4 linked regions of the Homo sapiens genome follow. The protein of the gene in region 4 purifies or fractionates together with the protein of the main gene of each other region. This does not show direct contact. Each region holds a gene or a part of one and is shown on either strand. Other genes may lie near its edges.

The links.
Region 1: the proteins of TXNDC15 (region 4) and NEK4 purify together in Homo sapiens (affinity purification with mass spectrometry; 3 studies listed by BioGRID and IntAct, with this or other methods). This does not show direct contact.
Region 2: the proteins of TXNDC15 (region 4) and TAPT1 purify together in Homo sapiens (affinity purification with mass spectrometry; 3 studies listed by BioGRID and IntAct, with this or other methods). This does not show direct contact.
Region 3: the proteins of TXNDC15 (region 4) and PIGN purify together in Homo sapiens (affinity purification with mass spectrometry; 3 studies listed by BioGRID and IntAct, with this or other methods). This does not show direct contact.

What each region holds. Positions count from the first base shown.
Region 1 is NC_000003.12:52,760,920-52,767,943, forward strand, and holds part of NEK4 (serine/threonine-protein kinase Nek4), read right to left. Parts: intron 5,457-7,024; coding exon 5,259-5,456; intron 5,076-5,258; coding exon 4,968-5,075; intron 2,706-4,967; coding exon 2,551-2,705; intron 18-2,550; coding exon 1-17. UniProt on the Homo sapiens protein: Protein kinase that seems to act exclusively upon threonine residues. Required for normal entry into proliferative arrest after a limited number of cell divisions, also called replicative senescence.
Region 2 is NC_000004.12:16,223,470-16,230,304, forward strand, and holds the start of TAPT1 (transmembrane anterior posterior transformation protein 1 homolog), read right to left. Parts: upstream 3,003-6,835; 5' UTR 2,989-3,002; coding exon 2,790-2,988; intron 1-2,789. UniProt on the Homo sapiens protein: Plays a role in primary cilia formation. May act as a downstream effector of HOXC8 possibly by transducing or transmitting extracellular information required for axial skeletal patterning during development. May be involved in cartilage and bone development.
Region 3 is NC_000018.10:62,184,048-62,191,321, forward strand, and holds the start of PIGN (GPI ethanolamine phosphate transferase 1), read right to left. Parts: upstream 3,010-7,274; 5' UTR 2,797-3,009; intron 1-2,796. Other genes in the region: RAB11-binding protein RELCH, read left to right, coding at 3,459-3,984.
Region 4 is NC_000005.10:134,869,574-134,877,382, reverse strand, and holds the start of TXNDC15 (thioredoxin domain-containing protein 15 isoform 1 precursor), read right to left. Parts: upstream 3,013-7,809; 5' UTR 2,956-3,012; coding exon 2,853-2,955; intron 2,553-2,852; exon of another isoform or gene 2,251-2,552; intron 2,140-2,250; exon of another isoform or gene 1,985-2,139; intron 1-1,984. UniProt on the Homo sapiens protein: Acts as a positive regulator of ciliary hedgehog signaling. Involved in ciliogenesis.

The sequences.
Region 1 (7,024 bases), on a different chromosome or scaffold from region 4:
TATTTTTGGAGGTTTTTCTTTATAAAGAAGAAAAGAAAGAGTTATTATCAATATACTGAAGATTAAGGGTTTTTAGGTATATGTGGGAGTGTGTGTATACAATGAATTCCCTTACAGAACTGCACCATTTATAGAGAATAGTTTTCTAAAAATCTAAGGGGCATCCTACAAAACACCTCACCAGTAGTCTTTGAAACAATCAAGGTCATAAAAAATAAACAAAGTGAGAAACAATCACAGACCCCTGATTAGATGTACTATATCCTGGATTGGATCCTGGAACAGAAAAGAGACATTAGAGAAAAAAACTGGTGAAAGCCAAAGAAAGTCTGGAATTTAGTCAATAGTAATATTTTTCTTTCTTTTTTTAAAAAATTGAGACAGAGTTTCACTCTGTCATCCAGGCTAGAGTGTAGTGGCGTGATCTCAGCTCACTGCAACCTCCGCTGCCCAGGTTCAAGTGATTCTTGTGCCTCAGCCTCCCGAGTAGCTGGGACTACAGGTGCACGCCACCACGCCCGGCTAATTTTTTTGTATTTTTTTTTTAGTAGAGACGGGGTTTTGCCATGTTGGCCAGGCTGGTCTTAAACTCCTGACCTCAGGTGATCTGCCAGCCTCGGCCTCCCAAAGTGCTGGGATTACAGGCGTGAGCCACCATGCATGGCCAAGTCAATAGTAATATTTCGATGTTGGTTTCTTAGTTTTGACAAATGCATTAGGGTATGTAATCTGGTAATCACAGAAGAAACTAGATGAGGGGTATACAGGAACTCTCCACTCTATCTTTCCAACTTTTCTGTTTATACAAAATTATTCCAAAATAAAAATTCTATGGGAGATTGCCTCACATACGGGAGTATCAGGTTAATTTTCATTTTCAAATTTTACATGTCTGTAATAATACCACAACTGCTTGGCTAACTTTGAGAGTAAAACTGATTGGTACACTTAGTCCTGCTTATAGAATAAATGCATACAGGAATAACATCCCCAACTATTTTAGTATGTCATTTCTAAAACTGGGCTAAACCTCTGGAGAATTCAAGAGGAGCATGGAGATCAGTACACTGGAAGGCCAAAGGTCTGCTTGGTGGGAAATTATGTACACAAAAAGATGGTTCTTCTTTATTCCCTGAGGCATCTCTAGCACTGCCTCCTCTCTTTCCAAATTTAACATGCCACAAGGCAAGAGGAGAAGCCAAACAGATTGTAATAGTTTTGTCCAGCCCTAAGTCTTAGATCCTGGAACACCTGTTTAGTAAAGGTAGGATCTGCAAGCCAAAGCAAGGAATTCTCTTGGGAAGTTAATGTGAATGAAGAGGGAACTTTATGCAAGCTCTCAGAAATGTGAGCACTACTTTTTAAATATTACTATCTTACACAGTAAGATGTATAGGTTTCTCAGATAATCTCTAATTATATGATTTCTAAAACATATGCCCTCTTTTTTTTTATTATTATTTGGCTGCTCCTTGAGAACAGGACTAACTCATAGGCAGTGAGCCCAGAGTAGTGCATATGTCCTTTAAAAAAAAATTTACACTATATGTCTTAGAACCCTCTGAGGAATGTGACAGTGGTTCTCCAAATTTCTGATTTTAGCAATTAAGCAAATTTCAACATGTATTTGAAGACTGGGAGAATATGCCACGCCAAAATATGCTACTTTGGCATAAAGATTATTTTGGGCTAAGGTTCTTTAAAAAGTAAGTGCAAGCTTTGGGAGGCCGAGGTGGGCGGACCACGAGGTCGGGAGTTCAAGACCAGCCTGGCCAACATGGGGAAACCCTGTCTCTACTAAAACTACAAAAATTAGCCGGGCACGGTGGCGGGTGCCTGTAATCCCAGCTACTGGGGAGGCTGAGGCAGGAGAATTGCTTGAACCCGGGAGGCGGAGGTTGCAGTGAGCTGAGATCATGCCACTGCACTCCAGCCTGGGTGACACAGCAAGACTCCATCTCAAAAAAAAACAAACAAAAAAAAGTAAGTGCAAGAAGGGCACTCTGATCTTCCCTTTTTCTTCCAGAAAGCAGAAGATAAAACTCCCATATGAAATACGTCCTCCCTGTACCAGAAGGAAAGTAACATTCTTATTATCAAGAATGGAAAGCTGAAACTGAGAGAATTCTATAAACAGACCTTATTAAAATAATTCTTATCTTCCTTTAGCCTCTCCACCTAGTTTACTTTTCCACAATTGCCTCTCTTTGTTCAATCAAGCAAAAAGCATTTAGGTTTTGCCACTTCTTTGTATTTTTAGTAGAAGTTAGGTCTTCATTTCCTTATGAGGGCTCCTGTGTCACATAAAACTTATTCAGGTATTAAAGAAATCTACATGCTTTTCTCCTGTTAAATTATAAGTTTAATTCTCAAGCTCAGCCAAGAAACCCTAAGAGGGTAGAATTTTGCCTCCTCTACATATGTAATCATGCCATTTTATTTCTTGTTTTTAAGAAAACTCACCATTAATTCTTGCATATGAATATTACAGAAGCCACCCTCTTTCACCCCATCTATTTAGCCCAGCTATTTGCAAGGGAAGTATCTTACATCTTTGTGGCCTCCAAAAAGAAGGAGATTTGCCGCTTTATATAAGGCTGCCTCAGGATGCTCCTCACAGACGGCCTTTCTTCAGGCCTTTTGCTCAGCATTGTTCTTATCAGTTCTGCCAGCTCTGGGCTGTAATCTCTTGGCATTGGTGGCAGCTACAAATAAAAATAATATTGTAATTATGACTAATGGTCTTGTGAAACAAAGTAAAAGCTGGTAGAGGTTTCCCAATATTTATTTATAGTCATATGTCCACATAAGCAGAAAACAATCAGTATATTAGTCTACAGGAAGTGTACTGGTATCCCAGTTGTAAGATAACAAGTTGTAAAATTATAAAAGTATATCCTCCAACCCAGCAGTCCCATCTGATGACACTCTCATTCAGAAATAAGAGTATGAGTTTCCTAAAGACTTATGTATCGGGATGTTCAATGCAGTACTGTTCTTGCAGTAGTAAACAATTGGAAACATAAATGTCCCTTAGGGGATTTGTGGAATAAATTATCATGCATTCTTCTTATAAAAACTAGGGCCAGTCGCAGTGGCTTACGCCTGTAATCCCAGCACTTTGGGAGGCCGAGGCAGGTGGATTGCCTGAGGTCAGGAGTTTGAGACCAGTCTGGCCAACATGGTGAAACCCCGTCTCTACTAAAAATACAAAAAAATTAGCTGGGCGTGGTGGCATGCACCTGTAATCCCAGTTACTCAGGAGGCTGAGGCAGGGGAATTGCTTGAACCAGAGAGGTGGAGGTTGCGGTGAGCCGAGATCACGCCACAGCACTCCAGCCTGGCAACAGAGCGAGACTCTGTCTCAAAAAAAAAAAAAAAGAAAGAAAAGAAACGAAACTAGGCAGCAGGTTAAAAAATACAAGACTTGGGCCGGGTGCAGTGGCTCACACCTGTAATCTCAGCACCTTGGGAGGCCGAGGCGGGTGGATCATGAGGTCAGGAGATGGAGACCATCCTGGCTAACACAGTGAAACCCCATCTCTACTAAAAATACAAAAAAGTGGACGGGCGTGGTGGCGGGCACCTGTAGTCCCAGCTACTTGGGAGGCCGAGGCAGGAGAATGGCGTGAACCCGAGAGGCAGAGGTTGCAGTGAGCTGAGATTGCACCACTGCACTCCAGTCTGGGCAACAGAGTGAGACTCTGTCTCAAAAAAAAAAAAACTTGCAGGTACCGACTTGGAAGGATGTGTTCCTCATATATTAAGTCAAAAAAACAAGTTATGTACCATGTGAACAGCCTGATTTCAGTTTAAGAATCTGTGGGTGTGCGCGTGCGCATGCACACACACACACATGCACACACACACACACACACACACACACAGAGTTATGTCTGTATAAAGACAGGAAAAAACCAGAAAGGCCATGTACCAATTTGCTAGCAATGGTCATCTTCCAGGGAATGGGAATAGAAAGAGAAGAGAATTTCACTCCCTTCTTGTTTGATTCTTAAGTAGTGGCATTATGGGAAAATTTTACTTTTGTGTGTGTTTTTCAATATGCTTCAAATTGAAAAATTAAATAAGTTGTGGGATAGTATTAAAATCAATAGATGATTTATGGCCTTTAAAACTTAACAGTACATTGGCCAGGTGCAGTGGCTCACACCTGTAATCCCAGCATTTTGGGAGGCTGAGGCGGGCGGATCACCTGAGGTAAGGAGTTCGAGACCATCCTGGCCAACATGGTGAAACCCCGTCTGTACTAAAAATACAAAAATTAGCTGGGCCTGGCAGCATGTGCCTGTAATCCCAGCTACTTGGTAAGCTAAGGCACAAGAATCACTTGAACCTAGGAGGTAGAGGTTGCTGTGAGCTGAGATCATGCCATTGCACTCCAGCCTGGGAGACAAGAGCAAAACTCCATCTCAAAAAAAAAAAAACAAAAAAAAAAACCTTAATGATACATGGATGCCTGAATCTATAAAGGGCAACTAGCCTCATGGAACATACAAAGCCAGTCACTCTGGAGTCTATATCAGACACAATGCTTTCTGTGATTCTTAACTAGTTACTGATTGTTGTGATGATTATCAAAGGAACGACAAGTTCAAACAGAGTAAACTCATTTTAAATGTAGCTCATTGAATCATAGGCTGCTTAGAAGAAGAGACAAATAGCCTCTCAGGGCATCGGCACATCCTATGACTATAGGCATAGGTTTTCAAAAAGCCAATTCTTTTGAGCCATTAAGCTGGCTTACAGATTAATATTAAGAAATGATCCATCAATCCCTTTTCCTCTAGTCTGACCTTCCCCACAGAAGGGACCCACCATTGTTAACTATCAACCCAATCTCAATAATTACTCATTGACTCATCAAAATCATCAATGATTTTGCTAGTAGCTATTTATAAAGCTGCACTATAGAAATACTGGTCAATTAGTTCTAGATTATTCTTTACCTTTCCTTCAATAATCCGATAAACTAAAGAATTCATATCTTTTGCATTGAAAGCATGCTTCAAGGTGGCCATTTCATAGACACAGCATCCTAGAGCCCAAACATCAGACTAGAAAATAAAAACAGTAAACGGTTAAATGTCAGAATAGCTTATTTACATTTTTTTCCCTTTAAAAAAAGAAAACATTTTCCTTAAACCAATTCATAGATAATTCTCTGACTTAATTAACTTCTGAAATTACAAGCACTCTCCCAGAGACAAGGTAAGCCAGCATACAGAGCCCAATCCTACCTTATAGTTGTAGGGTTTGTTTGAGAACAATTCAGGGCTCATGTAGTAGGGTGTGCCAATGAGGGTGCTAGCCATGTCACAGTGGTTCTCTAACACTCGGGCAATTCCTAGGTCCCCTACTTTGATGATGTTTGTTCTTGTTAGGAAGACATTTTGAGTTTTCAGATCTCGATGAAGGATGTGTTTTTCATGTAAATACTGAGGAAAGAAACAAGATTTTATTACATATAAATAGACTTAATTATGTATTTATTCCTGGCTTATTATATACCATCAGCAATGGCATGAGTTAGAGTCTTTGACCGTAAAGAGTAACCAACCATACAATTCCTTATTCAACAAGCAAATACCTACCAAACATTATTGCTTTATAATCTCTAAATAAAAGGTCTAATTTACAATTTTTGAAATGAGAAAATTAAGTTCCATGTGTTGACTTACCCAGTACCCATCAAAACTGTTCCCTGGTAGCTTGACAATTATACCATTTTGGCATTACATGAATCCAGTTTAAAAATATGTTTACAAGCCGGGCGCAGTGGCTCACGCCTGTAATCCCAGCACTTTGGGAGGCCGAGGCGGGTGGATCATGAGGTCAGGAGATCGAGACCATCCTGGCTAACAAGGTGAAACCCCGTCTCTACTAAAAATACAAAAAATTAGCCGGGCGCAGTGGCGGGCGCCTGTAGTCCCAGCTACTCGGGACGCTGAGGCAGGAGAATGGCGTGAACCCGGGAAGCGGAGCTTGCAGTGAGCCAAGATTGCGCCACTGCAGTCCGTAGTCCGGCCTGGGCGACAGAGCGAGACTCCGTCTCAAAAAAAAAAAAAATATGTTTACAGGCCAGGCGCAGTGTTCAGCAGTTTGGGAGGCCGAGGTGAGCGGATCACTTGAGGCCAGGAGTTCAAGACCAGCCTGGGCAACATGGCAAAACCCCATCTCTACTAAAAAAATACAAAAATTAGCTGGGCATGGTGACGCACGCCTATAATCCCAGCTACTTGGGAGGCTGAGGCACAAGAATCACTTGAACCCAGGAGGTGGAGGTTGGAATGAGCCACGATTGTGCCACTGCACTCGAATCTGGGCGACAGTGACACTCTGTCTTAAAAAAAAAACAATGCTTACAAACTCCACTGATGGTAGGACAACTTATACAAAGTCAGACGCACAGTCCTCTCAGACCCATGAAATCCTCAGCTTAATAATATTTTCAAGTACAGCAAGAGCATTTTTATTTAGAGAAAGTATCTCAGCCGGGCGTGGTGGCTCACGCCTATAATCCCAGCACTTTGGGAGGCCGAGGCAGGTGGATCACCTGAGGTCAAGAGTTCGAGACCAGCCTGGCCAACATGGTAAAACCCCATCTCTACTAAAAATACAAAAAAAAAAATTAGCCAGGTATGGTGGCAGGCGCCTGTAATCCCAGCTACTTGGGAGGCTGAGGCAGGAGAATCGCTTGAACCTGGGAGGTGGAGGTTGCAGTGAGCCGAGATCGTGCCATTGCACTCCAGCCTAGATAACAAAAACAAAACTCCGTCTCAAAAGAAAAAAAAAAAAAGAGAGAAAGTATCTCAGAATTTAAACATGGTCAATTAATTCTGGACAAGTCTACCCAGTTCCAAAATAGTATTTCATAAACGTCTCGCTTTTGAGTTATATGCATATTAAAACACAAACTTGTAGGAACACTTATTCCATCTTAAGGAATGATGTGCTGCCCAATTCTAAAAAATAAAAAAAAGAAAACTTGTTTTGCATTCCCATC
Region 2 (6,835 bases), on a different chromosome or scaffold from region 4:
ATGCAACAAGGAAATACACAATGACCATTCTGAGAGAGCAAATAAAAACAGGAATGATGAGTGGGATTCCCAATTCTAACTATGTTAAAAGGTGTAAGTACTCGCATCTGAGACATGCGTCAGCCTATTGCCAGGCTAAATATAAGTCAGAACGGGAGTTCTGAGAACGAAGTGATGAGGAAAAGAAAGCTTAGACTTAATGGAGACACATGTTTAGTATAATACAATATAGAGCATATACAGCTATTCATACAGACAAATATACATATCTAGTTTCTAAACATATAAATCAACAAGGAGAGATATAAAACAAAAAATGAACCTCAGACACCACGTTTTATTTTATTCAGATGGAAAGAGTTTGGATAAGTACCTAATATGTACATTCATTTAGGGAATTCTAGGCTGTTGGGACTGATCAACAAATGTCTTACCTGTAGGAGCCCTAAATTCCTTGTGAGAAATGATAAAGGGAACTTTGGAACTGACTGATGGTTCAGCCACCAAGACACTAAGATTATGACTTTCAAAAAGAAAAGCCAAAGGTTGCCTTAACTTGCAGGGGGATCTAGATCTCAAGGGCAGTGGTGCTAGACTCTCAGAGGCACACAAGAATATAAAAAAATCAACAAGTAATACCTTAAGTCCGAGCATCTAGCCGTGGAGGACTAGTTTGATTCAGGGAGAAATGCTATCCAAATGACTCCAGGTGCTGCCACTCAAAGGCCCTCTGACCCAGGCCAGCTCCTAGGGAATCGTTTTTAAAAATTCTTAAAAGGAGGGGAAGGAAGGATTACAGAGCAGGGGAAGAGGGCAGCGCTAGACTTAGCAGCCTGGGCATTGAAGAAGGACTAAAATAATTGTTTCTAGTGGGGAAACCTCTAACAAATATGGTTATCGGAGCTACAGACTGGGTGCTAGCAGTGGCAGGAGCTATGTGACTAGCAGAGCAGGGACACCAGGGGAAAAGAAGGAGGGGCTTATGTGGAGGCTCAGAGAGAACACTGGCCAGTGGCTCCAGCTGAAATACTCCTGGAATTTGGAATTCTCACCTAAATCCTGATCGCCAAGGCTAGTGTGACTTGGTAAAGCAGGAGTGGCCACTGACATCTCCTCACACAAAATCAATGGAACTGGGGAAAGAACAAGGACTACCCCAACAGCTAAACCTGGAGGCATCTCCCTGATAATGACTTCCTGCAACTATGGGTTAAAAAAAATCCAGCCTTAAACATGGTGAACCATGTTGGTGAAGAATGGATACGTGGTATAATGAAGTCCATGGAAGTCCAGGTATCCAGTCCCAGAAAAAGCCAGGGAAGAAGTGTTAAGTGATACTGCAAGCTCAAGATCTGTGCTCATCAATAGGCTTCAAACAACTTCATTTCCTCTCCACGCAAACAACAAAAAAAGGCTTTTAAAATGGTGGCTTTCCTGCAACTGAGAAATGTTTTAAAGAAAGTATAGTGAAGCCTGGCTACATCTATCTCTATTTACAACAGAGTGCTTTTAATATTCAAGTCTAAGTAAGTAAACAGACAGTTGAGAGATTTGCTATTTTGTCTTACTGAGATCCTGCCAATGAAGAAAGTAAATACTCTTGAAAGCAAATGTTTAACTGAGAACTAAACCAAATAAAGTATGGTTGAGAATTTTTAAGTGGTTAATTGAAAAAGACCAAACAAGACCGTCTGTAATTTTCCAAAAATATAGACTGCTTCAAATAGAACCTACGTCCAGTTCTGGGAATCAGCAAATCAATTAGAATCGCATCTGATCAACTTTATGCCCCTTAAGTAGTTTTAAAATTTCAGTACTCAAGTACAATCAATGATGTAATCAGCCTCACAACTTAGTTATTTGCATGAACTTCAGGAAATAACGGCTAACACAGCCCCTTTTGGACAACAGAAGTAATTTTTTAGTTGGAAGAAATTTAATGGAGTTATGGTTCAGTTGCTGTTTACAGCTTGAGAATTAAAACGTTGGGTTCACTCTATATTCAAGAAGACATCCATCTCAAAACCTTTTTTCATTTAAAACTAATCTGTAACTGCAATATGAATACAAATGCAAGTTTTAAAAATTCTTTTAAAATGAGAATAAAAACCTACAGCTTATAGAAACTGTAACATTGTAACAATACGTTTAAAACTGGTCATTGAATGTAGGATTCATAAGTACACATTTTCTCATCTAGTAATTTTTTTGGCATAAGTTTCAGTTCAGGAAAAGTTCAGATGCAACATTTTATGGAGTGTTAAATATTTCTGTACTGGGCAAAACTACTGAACTTCATGGTCACTACCACACCGTCAGCTGTCTGTGAAAAATCTACTTGCAGGGCAAGTTAACAGGTTTCTATGGCTCAAGTTTGCTTAAAATACAGAACAAAAAAAGTCACCTTGGCATGAATATAATTAAGAAATCAGCCGTGTGCTTCTCACGTTTGGGCTCCGAGACGTGGGAGATGCCCGCTAACCTAAGACCTTCCGAGGGCGATGCAAGGACCCGGACAGAACTTTCCCGGCCGCAGACCCCTTCTAGGGCACACCTGGCCTGGCGCGGCCGCGGGGGCCTCGGGGCTGCGCGCGCAACCCGCCCGAGGAACTGTCAACGGCCGCGGAGCCTCGGCAGCCTCGGCGGCTCCGCGCGCCCACAGCCTGGGGAGCCCCGGGAGGCAACGGCAGCCGCGCGGCTCGGGGGCCGGGGTTCCAAGGCGCCCCCGCCGCCCTCGGTCCCCAGTCCGCCCCTCGGAGCCCGCCACGGCCTAGCGCCGCCCGCCTCACCTGTGCGGCCCCGGCGCCTCTCCCGCCGCCGGTCGCTCTCGTAGAAGCCCAGCGTCTCTGTGAGCTGAGGCGCCGGCGGGGGCCCCTGTCCGCCGCTGCCGCCCGGCTGCTCCGCCTCGCCGCGGCCGTCCCGCTGCGGGCCGTCCACGCCGCCACCGCCGCCTTCTCCCGGAGCGGCCGCGTCGCCGACGCCCGCCATGTTCCGAGCACAACAAACTGTCCCCGCCGCCTCCCTCCAGCCTCTGCCTCCGGCCGGCCCCCTCCCCGCCTCGCCCCGCCCCTCGCCGGAGCCCGAGCCGCCGCCGCCGCCGCCGCCATCCGCGGCCCGCCGACCGGCGCGAGCCATTGGCGTCAGCGACGCGTGTGAGGCCGCTGCCGCCGCCGCCGCCGCCACGGTAGCCGCCATCTTCTTCCTGCCCTCGCCGTGGCGGGCGACGGTTTCTCGCGCCGTGGCTGGCTCGGCCGGCCGGGGCACCGCGCCGGGCTCCATGCAGCCGGGCTGCGCGGTCCCGCAGAGCGGGCGCCTCCGGGGCTCGAGTCGGGGACCCGGCAGGAGCGGGCCGGGGATGGCGGCGGCGGGCGGCGGGTCGGCCGTGGAGCCCCGGAGAGGCGGCCGCCACCACCGCTGCCCGCAGTCTGCGAGGTGTCCGGCGGTCCGCTCAGGGCCTCTTTTGCAGACTCGGTGCCCGGAGTGCGCCGGCGCCGCCCGCCAGGTCTTGGCACTGCTGGCGCGGCCGCGGCGGCGGGGGCCCGGCTCCAGATCACCGACCCCCACGAGCGCCGGCCCTGCCTGCCCGCTATTTTGGTTCCATCTCTTCTGCATATTTATGCTTGCCTGTTACATTCCCTGGCCTCTGAGTGTCCTTTGGCAGTTTCCAAAGCATTTGGGCAAGAAGGAGCTTGGGCAGCTTCACAACAGGTGGGGACGCGCAGGGGAGGGGCCGCGGCCGGACCGGCAGAGTTTCAAGGGCTGGCGCGCCGGCGGACTTTCCACACTGTCTTTCGGGACTGGGGTTAGGAGACAGCCCTTGGCCACCACTGTGTCCTTACTTTGTCGCTTTACTTGGGGCTGGACCTCCCCTTTCCAGCTCTGGCGTGTGACCCCGCAACGAGCGTGGTGTCGAGACCACCACCAGCTGGGGCGGTGGGAGCGAAGGTGCCCCAGGCTCGGGGAAGGTGGAAACCTTTTCCCCGCTCCCCAAGTGATTGTTGCGCGCTCCGGTGAGGGGACAGTGGTACCTCGATTTCCCGTGTGCCAGCTTCGGGACTCAGCTGTGCTTTTGTGTCTCTTTGATTAGCAAAAGCAAAACGAATTCCTCCCCGAACACTAAGCTTCCTGGAAACTTCCCTAGACCTAAACTTGAGAACCGCATATAAATGGGCCTTGAGGGTTCTGTCGTCAGTAGCGGGTTACGTGATTGCAAACGAGCAAGTTTAAAACGGAGTGGGCTTTGGGCTGCAGAGCCGCCTGGCATTCTGACAGCTGAGCAGGAGGCAGAGGTGAGAGTCCAAGATGGACTAAAAATGTCCCAGCAGCTGGGAGCCCAACCTCGGCCCAACCTCGTTGAAAGGAGGAACATTCGGTGCAGCCGTCGGAACCTTATTATTTATGAAAGGGGACAGCTCACAGGATTACATTTTTCTAAGCCAATCCTGTGACCATCCTCCATGAAATTCTCTATTTTGGTTGCATGTGGTCAAAACTGAGCCTCACTGAAACAATTGAAAACAAATACTCCCGACAAATCTTAAGAATCGTTTTGAAAATCAAAAGGTGGGGAAAATGTTGTGGCTTCTGAGCTTTCTTCAGCCCATATTCTATTATTCTCTGATGTTTTATGGTGTAAAATCATACCCATTCCATTATGTATTGATTGTCAAGAAGGAAGTAGGCTTTTATTGCTATTTTTATGTCAGTTTCCATTTACTGTCTCACCACATTTATTGGGTTATTGCCTTTGCCTTTGACTCAACAGGAGCTGGAAGGGTAGGAATCCCAAATTCTGTTGCCTAAGGCAGCCAGTTGTCAGAATGGACTTTCCTCATTTTCTATTATGAGGCCTGAGGAAAGACATTCAGTTCCAAAGGCTGTGCCTATCCTTTTAAATAGAAGAGAGAGGGCCCGGCACGGTGGCTCACGCCTGTAATCCCAGCAGTTTGGGAGGCCGAAGGGGGCGAATCACGAGGTCAGGAGTTCCAGACCAGCCTGGCCAACATAGTGAAACCCCGTGTCTACTAAAGATACAAATATTAGCCGGGCGTAATGGCGGGCGCCTGTATTCCCAGCTACTCGGGAGGCTGAGGCAGGAGAATGGCTTGAATCCGGGAGGCGGAGGTTGCAGTGAACCGAACCGAGATCGCGTCGCTGGACTCCAGCCCGGGCGACAGAGTGAGACTCCGTCCCAAAAAAAAAAAAAAAAAAAAAAAAAAAAAAAAAAAAAAAAAAAAGAAAAGAAGAAGAGGAAGCAGCCGTGCCAAAAAAAAAAAAAAAAAGAAGAGGAAGCAGCCGTGCCGAGGCTAGGTACTGCCTAAAGAAGCGGGGGAACAAATTGGAAATGTGGGAATGCGAATGTGGGCAAGTTGAGGAACTTGTAGCTTCTCGTCGGTTGAATCTTTTCACTGAAGCTGCTTTATTATATCTGACATGTGAAACTACACAATTTCAAACAAACCCATATTGAAGTCAACATACAAAAAAGCATTTAAAAAACAACCATTAGTAAAAATAATTTTTTCAGTTAACGCTATTCTTCCCTTGTATAGGTGTTGATAATCATATAATCAAATAGCTTATTGCATATGGAGAGTTGTTTTCTTTGAGTTAATTCAACGTATTGCAACTTAGTTAGAATCCAGGAAAATAGTATTTTCAAATGTGTATTTGGAATCTTCAAAATACTAGGTTACAAATTACCTTAAGAGATATTTATGCAGCATAGAAGAACCAGCAGTTCTCAGAGGAAGATAAATAGTTAAAATATCATAATGCACTTTATATCAGTTGTAAAAAGAAAAATACAGGCTTAGATTTATGGTATTACCGTTAGAAAAACAATATGAGTATTTAAGAAACATAGCAACCCTAGCCATTAAATAGGCATCAAATAACATTCTGAATTAAGTTATAAGATAAAACCAAGATTTGGATGACAATGACAATATTGTCCATCATTGTTATCCAAATCCTGGTTTTATCTTATAACTGGTTTTAGGGGCAATTGTAGTGAATTGCCCCTAAAAGATGTTTGAAATTCGTTTCATACACTTTTCCTGAATCAACTTAAGTATTGATTTCACAAACAATAAGATGGTGTGCCGTAGCATGTCATCGCACTAGAAAGAAAAAAAGTACTCCACCAGTGGGAAATAATTTCAGCAGAGGAAAGTGATGAATATTGGATGTGTGTTTAGAAATCAGAGGTTGATAAAGTCTTAAGATTGCTATATGCACTATGAGGCTAATGTATTTTGAAAATTGCAAAACAATATTTTTTAAACAACAAAAATTTGGTGAGTAGCATACGCAGACTTCAAAAATAAATTGCGTAACTTCATATTTCAGTAATTAAAGATTTAACAATAGTGATTTTGTGGCTAAACAAAATATACTGAACCCATTATGTATAAACCATGGATTCAGAGCTCCAGAAAATTATCTTAATGAGGCATATAAACTCTTTTTGTTTAATGTCCACACCAAATCATTATGGTCTGCCATTTCATGAAATAACAAGTTTTAAAATAAGTGATGTTTTTTAGTTTGTATATCTATATTCTTTTCTACCAGGTATAGCACAGTGTAGTACAAGGGCCTACAGTTACAAGCCTTGGGAAAGATACTGTTTTGGCCACATATTTCAGCTATGTGACCCTGGAAAGAGGGTCTCAGAGGGCCACTGTGGCCCTCAGTGTCTTTTCATTGGTAAATTGGGGCAACATCTTTTGTATAATGAAAGCTGAAAAAAATAACGATTTTCCTTTTATTCTCCCTTCCTTTCATTTAGGCTGTAGTTTTCACTTTTTAACTACAAAGCAATTTATCTCTT
Region 3 (7,274 bases), on a different chromosome or scaffold from region 4:
CACATAACTATTAAAATTTTAAAAAGATATATGCATGTACCAATACAAGTTATCTAGTTTATCTGTGGATGTTTACCACACACTGAAAAACAATAAAACATGAGGTATTACTAAAACCTCAAGTCAACCAAAACTTGCATTCAGAATATTACTTGTGGTTCTTTTAAGACTATTAAAACCTAAAATAATTTTTTAAATACTAAAATGATTGACGTGCTTTGAAAAAAGGCATCTTTTACATCTTCATTGCTAAGGCACAAGCTTTAATAACTATCATTAGTCAGATGAAACATTAGTTGTAAGGGCCTAGATTAATGAAAATCTTACTAAGTAGAAAGGAAATTTCCCAACACTATTAATAATACATTATTATAAGTAGTGATCGGTAATTTTTAATATTCCAGTGTGTGTTACTTATACATTATTCACGAATAACCAAACCTCTGTGTATTGTGGAAAAGAAAAGTACATACTGGGAAGACTGGGCAGTTGATTTCTAATGGGCTTACAAGATCAAACACACAAGTTCATGGTTATAGGATAGGAGGCAGAAATAGAAGCAGAAAACCACAGATTTGTATGGGAAGAATTCCTCTACATGCAAGTTCTTACAACTCTGAGGAAACATTTTAAATCTATTTTCAACTTGTGTTTTAGAACTGAGACCCCAAATTAAAGATACTCCCTTCAGCCCTACTGACTTAATTGCTTTTTCAGGCTTGCACTGCCAAAACGATTGATATTAGTTTTATTTTTAAACACTTGTCAAATGTTCTCAACACATACTAATATTTCAATAATTAATAAGTGACCACAGTAATAGTTATTGTGTAGCAGGTACCAGGCACTGGGACAAGAACATTCTCAATTCTGTGTACTTTCCTTATCCCCTTTGATAGACGAATGCAAGTGAGGCTGAGAAGTTAGGTAACTTTTTCAAGGTCTCACAATAAATAATGAGTAGAATTGGGATCTGAACTTAAGCTTTTCTATCTTATAAGCATAATCCTCTTCAGGAATCCTAAATGCAGGAGATTTCTCAATTTCCCAATCATGGAGATGGAAATATTGTATATAAACAATCCATTTCTAATCATGCCCTTCCCATGCCATTCACTAATCCTCCATTCCTGGATTCCAGAAATTGGTTCCATTTTAATCTCTCTGGAAAATCCAACTAAAATACGGATCAGCAATCCCTTTTGCTAAGAAATCTCTAACAGGATACAGTATTTGCCATTTCAATTCTATTTGGGGGGATTTTTTTCCCCATGTTTTACTTTTAATATATGGCACAGAAAACTATTTATCATTAAAACATTGGGAACTAATGTCCTATAAAAAAATAGTTTAAATTCTTGGTACTTTTTTTTTAAACTTCTAGCAAAAATAAAATTTTAAAAACCCAAATCCCCATTCAAATGAAAATTTTAGTTTATTGAGCCTGGGTATATTGAAATTAAAGCCTACTCTTAACTGTTGGCATACTTTTACATGTAAACCAATAACCTGACCTAAGGTTATGTAAGAATCGTCTATTTTAATTTTTCCATGGAGCTAACGGGAGATACTTTACTGTGGAATGTTTACTACACACTGAATGTAATATGTCACTTACCTGTACACTAAGAAAGGAAATCTAAAGCCTGGAAAAGTGGTCATTTGTGTGTGAAAAAAATAGGAGCCATAAGAAATAGCAGTCTAATTGTATTGACTGGAAATTCCTTTACCTTTTCAGATCATAATCAAGGAATGACATAAAAGATAAACGTTGATCTTCTAAACTTAGGATATGTACTTTATATGCTAACATTTCATCAAAAAAATCAAAACTCTCTGAAGCATTCAACTTTTAAAATAGTTCTAAGTTCCAAAACCTTGATTCTAGCCTGCATGAACGAGTCAGAAATGTTGCAGGAGACAGTGGATAAAGAATCGTTTGGGACATAAGAGAAATGATGTTAATTCCTTTGACTCCTTATTAGCGGAATTGATTTTTTTTTTTTTTTTTTTTTTTTTTTGAGACGGAGTCTCGTTCTGTCGCCCAGGCTGGAGTGCAGTGGCGCGACCTCGGCTCACTGCAATCTTCGCCTCCGGGGTTCAAGCGATTCTCCTGCCTCAGCCTCCTGAGTAGCTGGGATTGCAGGCTTGCGCCACCACGCCCAACTAATTTTTGTGTTTTTAGTAGAGAAGGGGTTTCACCATGTTGGTCAGGCTGGTCTCGAACTCCCGACCTCGTGATCCGCCCGGCTCGGCCTCCCAAAGTGCTGGGATTACAGGCGTGAGCCACCGCGCCCGGCGTGGAGCTGATTTTATAACAACCACTCTTGGCTTAAGTTTACTTATCTGTCTACTGGTGAGACAGCATTAGATATTCTGAAGGGTCCCTGTTGTGTAAATCGTGTATTAAATCCTAAGCGTTTATTGAGTACCTAACAATTTGTTTTCCAACTCGACGATGTTCCCAGATCCAGGCAAATGCCAACCTCAGCGTTCCCTTTTCCGTTTAGTCTCTCCAGCCCCCGTCCCCACCCACAGGCAGGACCACCTCCGGGGCTGAGAAGTCGTGCTGTCGCTAGGCCTCCCGAGTGTGCAAGCATGTGGCAGAGAAGGGAAAAGAAAGGAAGTCACATTCCGACTACAGGCCTGGGCACTTGCTATCCATGGGGACAAAATGTCACCACTGGCAGCAAATAGCGAGAAAAAGTGCAGCGCAGTAGGGAAACAGCGCGTCCGCGGGCGCGACACCACAGTTTGGGCGCCGACACCCTCCGCGCACTGGTCCCTGAACTTTACCTGGAGCTTATCCCGGTCAGGCCTGATCTCGAAAACGAGGGCTCCTCAGCGCGAAGGCAGGACCCAGCTCCATTAAAGCTCTCGGGCAGTGGTCCCCTCTACCCACTGAAGCGATAGCCGGGAGGGTATTCCTAAGCCACCACTACAACCACCCCTCAATTCCGGAACGCCCCCAATACCTGCCCGGCCGCTGCTGCTATCGCGATAATTCTCGGGCCAGTCTCCCGTCAGTCCGCTCCACGCCTTCCTTCTCTGACCAATCATGGAGGAGTCGTGGGTGGAGTTTTGCTTTTGAGCGGAGAGCGGGGCCTTCAATCTTTGCTATCTGGCGCTGGGAATGGGCGGAGCTGAAGTGGGCTGGGGCGGGGCTGGGGCGGGGCTAGATCGGGGAGAGGGGCAGGGGCACGCTCCAGTTCTCGCGAGACTGGAGACCAGGAAGACGCCTGCAGAGCCGGGCTGCTGGTGCAGCAGAGGCTGAGGCATCAGGTGCAGCTGCATCCGGATCTCCTGCCTTGGAGCGTACTCCTTGTCTCTAAGTCGGGAGGCAGGACGTGGTCAGGCCGGGGCTGTGGAGGTGCGCTGTGTCCCCTGAGGCCTAGAGGATTCGGGCTGCGGCCCGTCGGAACCAGTCAGGGAGGCGCCCACACTCCTGACAGGATAAGATGGCGGCGATGGCGCCTGGAGGTAGTGGCAGTGGTGGCGGCGTGAATCCATTTCTCAGTGATTCGGATGAGGACGATGACGAGGTAGCTGCAACAGAGGAACGGCGGGCAGTACTTCGGCTGGGCGCCGGAAGTGGCCTAGATCCTGGCTCTGCGGGCTCGCTGTCGCCACAGGATCCCGTGGCCTTAGGAAGCAGTGCGCGGCCAGGGCTCCCTGGGGAGGCGTCGGCGGCTGCAGTGGCCCTGGGGGGCACCGGGGAGACCCCGGCCCGATTATCAATTGATGCGATCGCTGCTCAGCTGTTGCGCGATCAATACTTGCTGACCGCCCTGGAGCTGCATACCGAGCTGTTAGAGAGTGGCCGGGAGCTGCCTCGGCTGCGCGACTACTTCTCCAATCCAGGCAACTTCGAGAGGCAAAGTGGAACCCCGCCGGGGATGGGGGCGCCAGGGGTCCCTGGAGCAGCCGGCGTTGGGGGCGCTGGAGGTCGGGAACCGAGTACAGCGTCGGGCGGGGGACAGCTCAGTAAGTGGACGCAGCCTGTCACACTCCGGCAGGGTATTTGGGATTGTACGGAGTTACTGTAGGGGAGAGGGGGTATTTCTGCGTGGGTCCCGATAGGGACATTTTAAGGAACGAGAGTATTGGGGTGGGGGCGCTCTTTTGCGGTGGAAGCAAGAGGATCAGGCAATGACTGTTCTCTCTGCCTGCTTCCAACCCTTGGCTGGTGTTGCACTTGGCTCCTGGCTCCCCTACTGGTGTCAGTATCTATAAAATATCAAGAGTTTCTAGTTCACTGGCTATTACGGGACTCCAGAAGGTTCCCTTTTATACTAGTTTATTGCTTTAAGCATTTTCCTTTTTCTCCAGTTACCTGAATCACACTACCAGGAAATAGTGTTACCTGAATTGCCTGCAGTAGTTCTTTGAGTCTGAGCCAGGAGAGAAAGAATAGGACACACTGCTGCTGTCTCCGAAAAGTCAGATGTACTTAAGACCCTTTGTCTTTGGGACGACTTTTTCACCGCCAAAATTGGGTTTTCTGCTGCACAAAATTTGTTCTGTTGAGATAAAGTTGATGTAATTCAGTTTCAATGCCTTAATTTAAGTAATGTCCAAAATTACAGGAAATCCAAGGAGCAAGGCAGACAGGTTCTACCAGCAGTCTGTCTCACCATCCCACCACCTTGCAGGCTTTTCTCTTTGCATTAGATAGGAATTGACCTTTTTACCTTGGAATGATTTTTAGCAGCATAGAGTAATCGTTTACCCCATATATTCGTAAGCATCTCTTATGGCTTGAAAACTTACTGTCAAAGATGTAGTGTACTGTATGTAGGATTCCCAGTGTCTCCCTTTTGGGAGGTATCTTAAATATTCCCTTACTAATGTATGGAGATGTTTTAGTATGAGGCCATATATTAATTCTATATTAACAAGTATTCATATAGAATTTTTAAACTGCAGCCTAATTGATTTTTTTTTAATCACTATGCTTTTGAATAGTGCCAGAGACTTAAATTGCCAAACGTAGACGTGGTGGAAGCTTAGGGAGTGCATTTTCTATCAAGGTGAATCTTAAATATATTTCCCCCTTGGATATGGGATTTTCTCAGTAGTTATAATTTCCTTACCCAATATGTAGGATAATCTTCTTTTTCGGGAAAAGATTTTCTCATTGCTGACCTTTAAGACTATAAAATGAGACAGTAGTGTAACAAAATTGTTATGTGTGGTGGTGGGTCTTTTTTTGTTTTTTTTTTTTGTTGTTTTTTTTTTTTGGTTTTTGTGTTATTTCTAAGATTTCTAAATTATCTCATGATTTTTCACCAGACAAGGTCTAGCTAAGATGTCACCTTTGTACATGCTTCCTCCAGGCTTAGGTAGTTGCTTGGTTTCTTTCATTGTTAACACTTTCAAACCTCCATCATAGCCTTTAGCCCGTTTGTATGTGATTGTTGACAATACCATTTTTCTCCATTGGTCAGTTCTTCAGAGACATTTTTATAATAAATTTCTCACACTTTGCTCAGTCCCTGGCTGTTGATGAACATAACTGAATTGTATCTGCTGTGTTTTCAACCGTATTAATACAGTGAAATGGATTATTCCTTAGTTGGTAACTTTATTCATTTAATTTTAAAGAATTTCTTGACCTTTTCACCCTGTCTTATTAGGGCTATCATAGCATTGTTTCTAGTGAAAATTCCTCCTTGCAAACTTTTTGTATTGAAAGAATTATAATTGAGCTCATTAAATAGTTTAGCAGTGTTTTAGAGTAAAACCTTACTTCTAAGTGCCTTTGCATTATACATTTTTATACTTTCTTGAAATAACTAGAGTCTTATGATCAAATATCACAATTAAATATTCATGTGCACCTGTGCTTTTCTATTATCCTCATTTATTTGTACCTGTTTTAGGTACTGGATATATAAGTGTTTGTGTTTGTCTCTATGTGTGTGTGTACACATCAAGTTTATTAAATTTTTACTTAATACTAAGCAAATGAACAACAGGACAAAAAATTCAAAATTATCCATAATCCCACCAATGGTATTTGCTTTTCCTGTCTTTAATGGTAGTTGCCTTACCTGTCTTTTCTGTGCATGTGTTTTAAAAAACAAAAAATGGATTAAACTGTTTAACATAGTCTTATACAGGCACTATACTTTTTAGCATCAACTTGGATGTAAAATTTGCATACAGTAAAATTTACACGTTTTAAGTGTGTGCAGTTTGGTGAGTTTTGACAAATCAGTCACTACCACAATTAAAATACAGAACATCGGCAGGGTGCAGTGGCTCACGCCCGTAATCCCAACACTTTGGGAGGATGAGGCAGCCAGATCACGAGGTCAGGATTTCGAGACCAGCCTGGCCAACATGGTGAAACCCCTTCTCTACTAAAAATACAAAAATTAGCTAGGCGTGGTGGTGGGCACCTGTAATCCCAGCTACACGGGAGACTGAGGCAGGAGAATTGCTTGAACCCAGGAGGCAGAGGTTACAGTGAGCCGAGATCCCACCACTGCAGTCCAGCCTGGGCGACAGAGCAAGACTCCATCTCAAAAATAAATAAATAAATAAAAGTAAATAAAATAAAATACAGAACATTTTTATTATCCCCAGAATTCCTTCATTCAATATCCTTACTTCCATCTAGACCACCACTGATCACTTAGAACAGAATTTCTCAACCTGGGCCTGGGTACTTTCAACATTTTGGGCCTGGTAATGCTTTGCCGTGGCTGCTGGCCTGTGTATTATAAAATGTTTAACAGCATCCCTGACCTCTACCCACCAGATGCCTTTAGCAACCACCCCCATACCTATGCCACCCCAGTTATGACCACCAAAAATGTCTCCAGCATTGCCCAGGGAAGGGGAGGGCATAATTGCCCCAGTTGAGAACTACGTCTTTAGATAAGTTTTGCCTGTTCTAAAATTCGATATAAATAGAATCATAGAACGTATTTTTTTGTGTATCTGCCTTCAGCATGTTTTTAAAAGTCATCTATGTCTTTGTGTGTATTTCTAGATCATTCCTTTTTGGTTTTATCCCCAAAAGGGGGGGATAAAAAATTTGTGTCTTTTAAGACATTTGTGTTTTTTCCAGTTTTGTGTTATTGTAAAGAAAGCTCCCATTTACGTCTTTATGAGAAACTGCCAAACTGTTTTCCAAAATGGACCATTTAAAATTTCCACCACCAATGTACAAGAGTTCCAGTTTCTGTACATCTCCTAAACATTTGGTATTTTTGGGCTTTTTAATCTGTCATTTTAGTGAGAATGTAGCAGTGTCTCATTGTGGC
Region 4 (7,809 bases):
CTTTCAGTGGCTTCCCCTACCCTGTGAATGCATCTGCATTCTGTAGCAGAGCTACCAGGCCCCAATGTGGCCTCTGTCTGCACTCTCACCTGTGGCCATCAGATCCCTCTAGTCCCTGATCATTTACACTCCTCCTATCCCCACCTGCCTTAGAGCCTTCCTGAGGGCTGTTTCTCTGCTGGGAAGCTTCCTCCTGCCAAATCCTTCATCCTCCTCATTCAGATCTCACCCTAAATGTCACCTCTGTAAGGACACATTCCCTGACCCTCAGACCAGGGTGGGAGGTCTCCCATTACAGTTCCCAAAAACGCCCTGGGACTCTCCTTGATGCATTTCTCAGTCTTGCAATTTTCTTAGTAATTTGTAGTTATTTAGTGGCTGCCTTCCCCAAAGGCCTGCTGCTCTAACTCACCACTGGATCCCCAGTGCTCAGCACAGTGTTTAGCATATGATGAGTGCTCAGTAAGAATTTGCTAGCTGACTGCCTAGGGAAGAGTGGCATAGGGGTATTGAAGCCAGGAGTTTGCTTCCATTCCTAGACACCTGGATAGCATTGCTACCTCCAGGTTGCTTAGTCTCTCAGGGCCTCAGCACCTGAGGCCAGCATAATCTGCCAGTGGCATCCTCTGCAGAAAAAAAAAAAAAAAAAACACCTCAGATTTTCAGCTACTCTGAGAAGAAATCAGCTGGTGAAGTTTCTTCTGTCTTCACCCCATTCATGGCCTGGCCATGATGACCAAAGACCCAAGCTGAACCCTGAATCAGCCAGGGTTCTGCCAGGAAACAGCACATTTAACTTGGGCAAGTTGAGGAGAGTTTAATGAAGGGACCACTAATGTGTAGGCTGGGTGCAGAGAAATGAAAAGCAATGGTAAGGAATTCCAAGGCCAGTAACAGTAGAGGAGGAGCCAGTTACCACTCATAGACCTTAAGAGTCTGGAGAGAGAAGTAGTCACAGAACCTTGAAACATCAAGGGTAACACAGAGGGCAGCTTTCTAGAATTCAATGCTTTCCACCGGGGGCAAAGCCAGCCTTCAATAACTTCTCAGGGAGGGAGCGGAGAGAATCAATACCCTGACCTCACTCTCCCCTCATTCCAACACAATGGAAGCAAGACGGTAGGACAGCTGGTATTTATTCCACACAGGACAGCCACACAGGGCACAGAGCACGGTGGAGGGGCTGAAACAGAAGATATCCAACCCATGCCATCCCCTCTGTGAGGCTAGCAGTTAAGTATAGTGAAAATGCAGAGGTTGGGCTCTGAAGTCAGGCAGACATGGGCTTGAATCAAGGCTCCTCAACTTCTGGCTGTATGACCTTGTCAAAGGACTTATTGGCTCTGAGTCTTAAGTTACTTCTATAAAATGAGCATGATAACATCTACTGCATATGCATTTAAAAATTACTAAGGCCAGGCACGGTGGCTCAAGCCTGTAATCCCAGCACTCTGGGAGGCCGAGGTGGGTGGATCACCTGAGGTCAGGAGTTCCAGACCAGCGTGGCCAACATGGTGGACCATCATCTCTACTAAAAATACAAAAATTAGCCCAGTGTGGTGGCAGGCACCTGTAATCCCAGCTACTCAGGAGGCTGAGGCACGAGAATCGCTTGAACCCGGGAGTCAGAGGTTGCAGTGAGCCAAGATCGCGCCACTGCACTCCAGCCTGGGCAACAGAGCGAGACTCCATCTCAAAAAAAAATAAAAATAAAAATTACATAAACCGGGAGCAGTGGCTCACATCTGTAATCCCAGCACTTTGGGAAACAGGTGGGAGGATCACTTAAGCCCAGGAGTTCAAGGCTGCAGGGAGCCATGATGGGCCACTGCACTCCCGCCTGGGCAACAGAGCAAGCCCTCATCCCTTAAAAAAACAAAAACAAAACAGTAAAGATTCCAAAAGATGATGCTCGTAAAGCACTGAGCACAGCATCTGGTACACAGTGAGCGCTTTCATTCATGGTAATTGTGTTACTATGACTCACCCTTCTCCACAACTCTCTGCTGTCCTGCCTCCATCCAGGACACCCCAGGGAAAAGAAAGACCTGCCTATTCCTGTTAAGGTCTAAATGACAAGCGAGACCGAGGGTCTGGACTTTAACAGGACTATGAGGAGTGGGGTGAAGGAGCATGAAAGTAAGGCCTCCACTCTCCACCCTCGCCATGCCTCTAGAGTGGCTGCCTTCCCTACCGGCAAGTTGGGGGTTACCGGGAGTCTCCCGTGTTTCTCGTCTGTTTTTCATGCAGGGAGCTGAGCAAGACTGGCCTCCTTAAGACAGTGGTCCAGCAGCGTGGACTCCAGACTGGGCTTTGGCGTCAGAGAGACAGGCTTCTGCCACGTATCAGAAGCGCAAACTTAGGCGGGGCCTGAGCATCTTCATCTGTGAAATGGAGACACTAAACGGAACCGATCTGACAGGGTTTGTGGGAGCATTAAATGGGATAATGATGTAAATAAAGCACGATGCACAGTTCCTGGCTCCTAATACGGCCACAACAATGTCGGTATTTGATATAATGTTATTAATAATAAATTGCTTATCACCAGAGGGTATGCCTCAGCAGCGCTTACCGCACTGTCCCTCCTGGCTACCAGCCACGGGCTGAGGGCGGCCTGAACGCGGCCCAACCACCCCCGGGCTCCCGTCCACCGGCCCTCAGCCCACCGGCCCCCTTTCGCGGGCCACCAGCGGGCGGTGCGCGGGGAGAGAAGTCGGGGAGACGCGCCCGGGGAGACGCCAAGAAGGGGCGAGTCGCGCACCGCCGGCCTTCGCGCAGGTCCAGAGCGTCGCCCGGGTGGACCTCAGCTCGCCCCATCATCTCATGCACCGCCCCCGGCCCACACTCACCCTCCACGCCGCGGACGGGAAGTCCCAGCACCCACAGCAATACTTGCCACCAGCCGAGGAGCCGCATGACGCGGGGCGGTCGTCGACCGGCAGCCGGGACCATTGCCCAGGCCGAGAGGCAATCGGCGCACGGCTACGCGAGTCGTGCTGCCAGCCGGAGGAAGGCTGGGGGAGGAGAGCCTGGGAGCGCGGGCGCGGCCCCGCGCCGCCATCTTAACACCTGGCAGCTGTGGCGGGCGCCATCTTGGAGTCGGGCGGACGGCCTCTAGCCGCTGGCCGTCGGCGCTGGACTGGAGACCTCTTTAGGAGCTAAGCGCCAGACGTTGCAGGTCGTTTTGAACTCTGCTGACCCCAGAGTGCAGAGCATGGCTCTGGCAGAGGCCCATGGCCTCCTTTCTTCCCTCGGAAGTCAGAGCTTGGCTACTTGAAGCACTGCGCCCGCCTAAGGAGGGTTTTCCACGCTTCATTCCCAGAGCCAGAAAGGCCCAGGAGCCTTCCTGTTCTAGTGTCCCATCGAGGTGCAGAAACTTTGGAGGCTGCAAATCTTCTAATCGCTTGCCTAACCTGTGCTCCCCTACCTAGGGTTGCCACATAGAATACCTGATACCCAGTTATATTTGAATTTCACATAATGAATATTTTTTACTATAACCCTTATAGTATAAGGGATATACCTTAAAACTGAGCATCCTGTAACTTCGTGACATCTGGCAACCCTAACCCTACCTATCCACTCAGGGCAGGAGAGGTTGGTTTTAACTGATTTACCTTGCAGGGCAATCTCTTTTTAATCATGGTTGGGGCCGTGAGCATCATTGGCTCTGGCTCATGGTGGAGGTGGAGCCACCTCGAGCATAAAGTAGATAGGAAAGGGCTTAGAATGAAGAAAGCATAGATGGGGAGATGAGGAACAGGGCTCTGCATTCCCAAGCAAACGCACAGAGCGGGAGTCTTAAGAGAAAATTCTTGGAATAGAGAGGATGACACCACTAATTGGGGTATTTTGCCGGGGGGCCTGCTAAAATGGAATAAGGCAAGCTTTAAGCAGCCACCAGTCAGTGCTAAATCAGTGCAGAGTGCAGCTTTTCAAACTTATGAGGTTGAAAAAATAGAAACTGATTTAAAATACATCAGTCTATTGGTTAACATAGCAATGGTAAGGGGAACCTGTGCTTTTTGGCCGCTTGGTGAATCCCAACTTCAGCACATGTGATAGTTCACAGTCAGCAGGTTATGTAACTTAAAGTTAAGTTTCTTCAGCTGTAAAGTGGAAATGACGTTATATAGAGTCTTATAGATGAAATGAGATGTAAAGTGATGAGCACAGTGTCCTGGGGCACAGGAAGCATTTCAAAGTGGTAGGCATTATTAATTGAATAATACAATTCTGATGGTGTGGCCATAGTCCCCTTATCTCTATGCCCATCAAAAAGACACTGTTAGGCCAGAAAGATGCATCATTAATCTGTCCCTGTGGATGATTCTTTTATTCTAAATACGTTGGTATGGTTTTGCTGTTGTAGATCCTCAAGTGCCATCTTGTGGGTCCAGAAGAATATGAAACAATGGACATGGATAAAAGAGCCCACAGTTCTAGAGCTTATTACTAGTCATCATTTCGCTAAGTACCTCCCTCACCCCTAACAGTGGAACAACAAACCTTTCCTTTTTAAACTATCTTTCTCATACCCCCATACATGATTTGAAGGTGCATGAAAAGCCAACAGGACAGAGCACCAAAAGGATTTATGACTAATGAAAAGGAAGCTGATCTGGATACTCCAACATGGATGCCCTGTGGTTACTACTCCTTCCTTTTTATTATCTCCTTTCCTTTCCTGTATGTGTGTTTGTTTGATTTTTTTATTTTTTGAGACAAGAGTTTCGCTCTTGTTGCCCAGGCTGGAGTGCAATGGCGCGATCTTGGCTCACTGCAATCTCCACCTCCCCGGGTTCAAGCAATTCTCCTATCTCAGCCTCCCAAGTAGCTGGGATTACAGGCATGCGCCACCACGCCCGACTAATTTTATATTTTTAGTAGAGATGGGGTTTCACCATGTTGGTCAGACTGGTCTCAAACTCCTGACCTCAGGTGATCCACCCGCCTTGGCCTCCCAAAGTGTTGGGATTACAGGCATGAGCCACTGCGCCCGGCCCCTTCCTGTGTTTTTACTTTAGCTCTGTGTTTGGGACAGATACGCTTACAGATGTTAGAATTAGATGTTAGAATTGGATGTTAGAATTGTCTTTCAATTTTTTTTTTTTTTTAGGCACAGTCTCGCTGTCACCCAGGTGCAATTGCTCAGTTATGGCTCATTGCAGCCACAACCCCTTGGGCTCAAGCGATCTTCCCACCCCGTTTTTAAATTTTTTTCTAGAGATGAGGTCTCACTGTTTGACCCAGTTTGATTTCAAACTCCTGGGCTCAAGCAGTCCTCCCGCCTCGGCCTCCCAAAGGGCTGGGATTACAGGCTTGAGCGTCTTTGAATAAATACTGTATATACCCCCTCTAATGACAACAAATGTAGTCCACAGGTTAGAATCCTTATTTAACTGTCTCACCACCAACGTGCACTTCTTTTCAGTGAGAAAACTGCCTTCACAATTGTCCTGGTTTCTATCAAATTTCTGGGGGTGAGGAAAGAAAAGCTGACATTATTCTCTTCCTTTGGCTGAAATTAAATCCGCCAAATTTGTCTTGCTATCTCAAAAGGCCTTTCTGTGAGTCTGGGACATCTTATATCAAAATGCAAAACTTAAATATATAAGTAAATAAATAAATAAAAGAATACCAGGGTACTACGGTCATTTAGAATGACTGAGGAACCAAACTGGCTCCTACTTGCCAAAGATGGGATGATTTGAGCATAAAAATGAAAAATTTCAATAGACTGAAATACACTGCATATGTTAACATCTATGAGTTCACACTGCTAACAAAATTTTTTTAAAACTAGTCGGCCGGGCGCAGTGGCTCATGCCTGTAATCCCAGCACTTTGGGAGGCCGAGGCGTACTGATCACCTGAGGTCAGGAATTCAAGACCAGCCTGACCAACATGGAAAAACCCCGTCTCTACTAAAAATACAAAATTAGCTGGGCATAGTGGCTGCATGCCTGTAATCCCAGCTACTCAGGAGGCTGAGGCAGGAGAATCGCTTGAAACCGAAAGGCGGAGGTTGTGGTGAGCCGAGATCACGCCATTGCACTCCAGCCTGGGCAACAAGAGCGAAATTCCATCTCAAAAAAAAAAAAAAAAAAGAGAATGTAATTGGATTACTTGTAAATCAAGGATAAATTCTCGAGCGGATGGATACTCCAATCTCCCTGATATGCTTATTTCACATTGCATGCCTGTATCCAAACATCTCTGGGCCAGGCGCGGTGGCTCAACCCTGTAATCCCAGCAGTTTAGGAGGCCAAGGTGAGCAGATCACTTGAGGCCAGGAGTTCGAGACCAGCCTGACCAACATGGTGAAACCCCATCTCTACTAAAAAATACAATAATTAGCCGGGCATGGTGGCCCATGCTTGTAATCCCTGCTACCCAGAAGGATGAGGCAGGAGAATCACTTAAAACCCGGGGGGTGGCCGGGTGCGGTGACTCAGTCCTGCAATCCTAGCACTTTGGGATGCTGAGGCTGGTGAATTGCCTGAGCTCACGAGACCAGCCTGGGCAACACGATGAAACCCCGTCTCTACTAAAATACAATAGAAATTAGCCAGGCATGGCGGCATGTGCCTGTAGTCCCTGCTACACGGGAGGCTGAAGCAGGAGAATTGCTTAAACCCGGGAGGCAGAGGTTGTAGTGAGCCAAGATCAGGCCACTGCACTCTAGGCTGGGCAACAGAGTGAGACTCCGATTCTTAAAAAAAAAAAAAAGAATCCCGGTTGGGTGGAAGTTGCAATAAGCCGAGATCCTGCCACTGCACACCAGCCTCGGCAACAGAGCAAGACTCTGTCTCAAAAAACAAAAACAAAAAGAAACTCATTTATTCCATAAATATATACACCTACTATGTACTGGCAATTTTTTTTTCTCTTTTCTTTTTCCTCGAGACAGAGTTTCACTCTTGTTGCCCAGGCTAGAGTGCAATGGCGCAACCTCGGCTCACCGCAACCTCTGCCTCCCGGGTGCAAGCTATTCTCCTGCCTCAGCCTCCCGAGTAGCTGGGACTACAGGCATGCGCCAGCACGCCTGCCTAATTTTGTATTTTTAGTAGAGACAGGGTTTCTCCATATTGGTCAGGCTGGTCTCAAACTCCCGACCTCAGGTGATCCACCCGCCTTGGCCTCCCAAACTGCTAGGATTACAGGCATGAGTCACTGCACCCGGCCAAAAAATTTTTTTAATAATTTAAAAATTAACAAAAACAACAACAAAAACTACCAGAGATAATAAGTGAGTTTTGGAAGGTTGCCAGATAGAAGGTCACTATGCAGAAAACAGACTATATTTATATATGCTACCAAAAATCAAAAAAAACTTCTATTCACAGTAGCATCAAAAATAATAAAATATCTAAGACTCAATTCAACAAAAGAAGTTCAAGTTTTATACACTAAAACATAAAAAACACGGCTGAAAGAAATCAAGACAGATGAAAATCAGTGGAGAGACATACTATGTTCTGGATTGAAAGACAATATTGTTATGATGGCAATTCTGTCCAAATTGATCTATAGATACAACTCCTAAAAAAATCCTAGAGATTTGTAGAAATTGACAAACTGATCCTAAAATCTATATGAAACAACCAAAATGATTTTGAAAAAGTAGGAAGACTTACATTACCTGATTTCAAAACTTTAATTAAACTACAGTAATCAAGACTGTGGTATCGGCATAGGTATTAGCAGACAGATCACCAAATTAGACAAGTTAGCCCAGATATACACCTACACATCTACAGTCAACTGATCTTCAGTAAACATGACAAAGCAATTCCAGATGGAA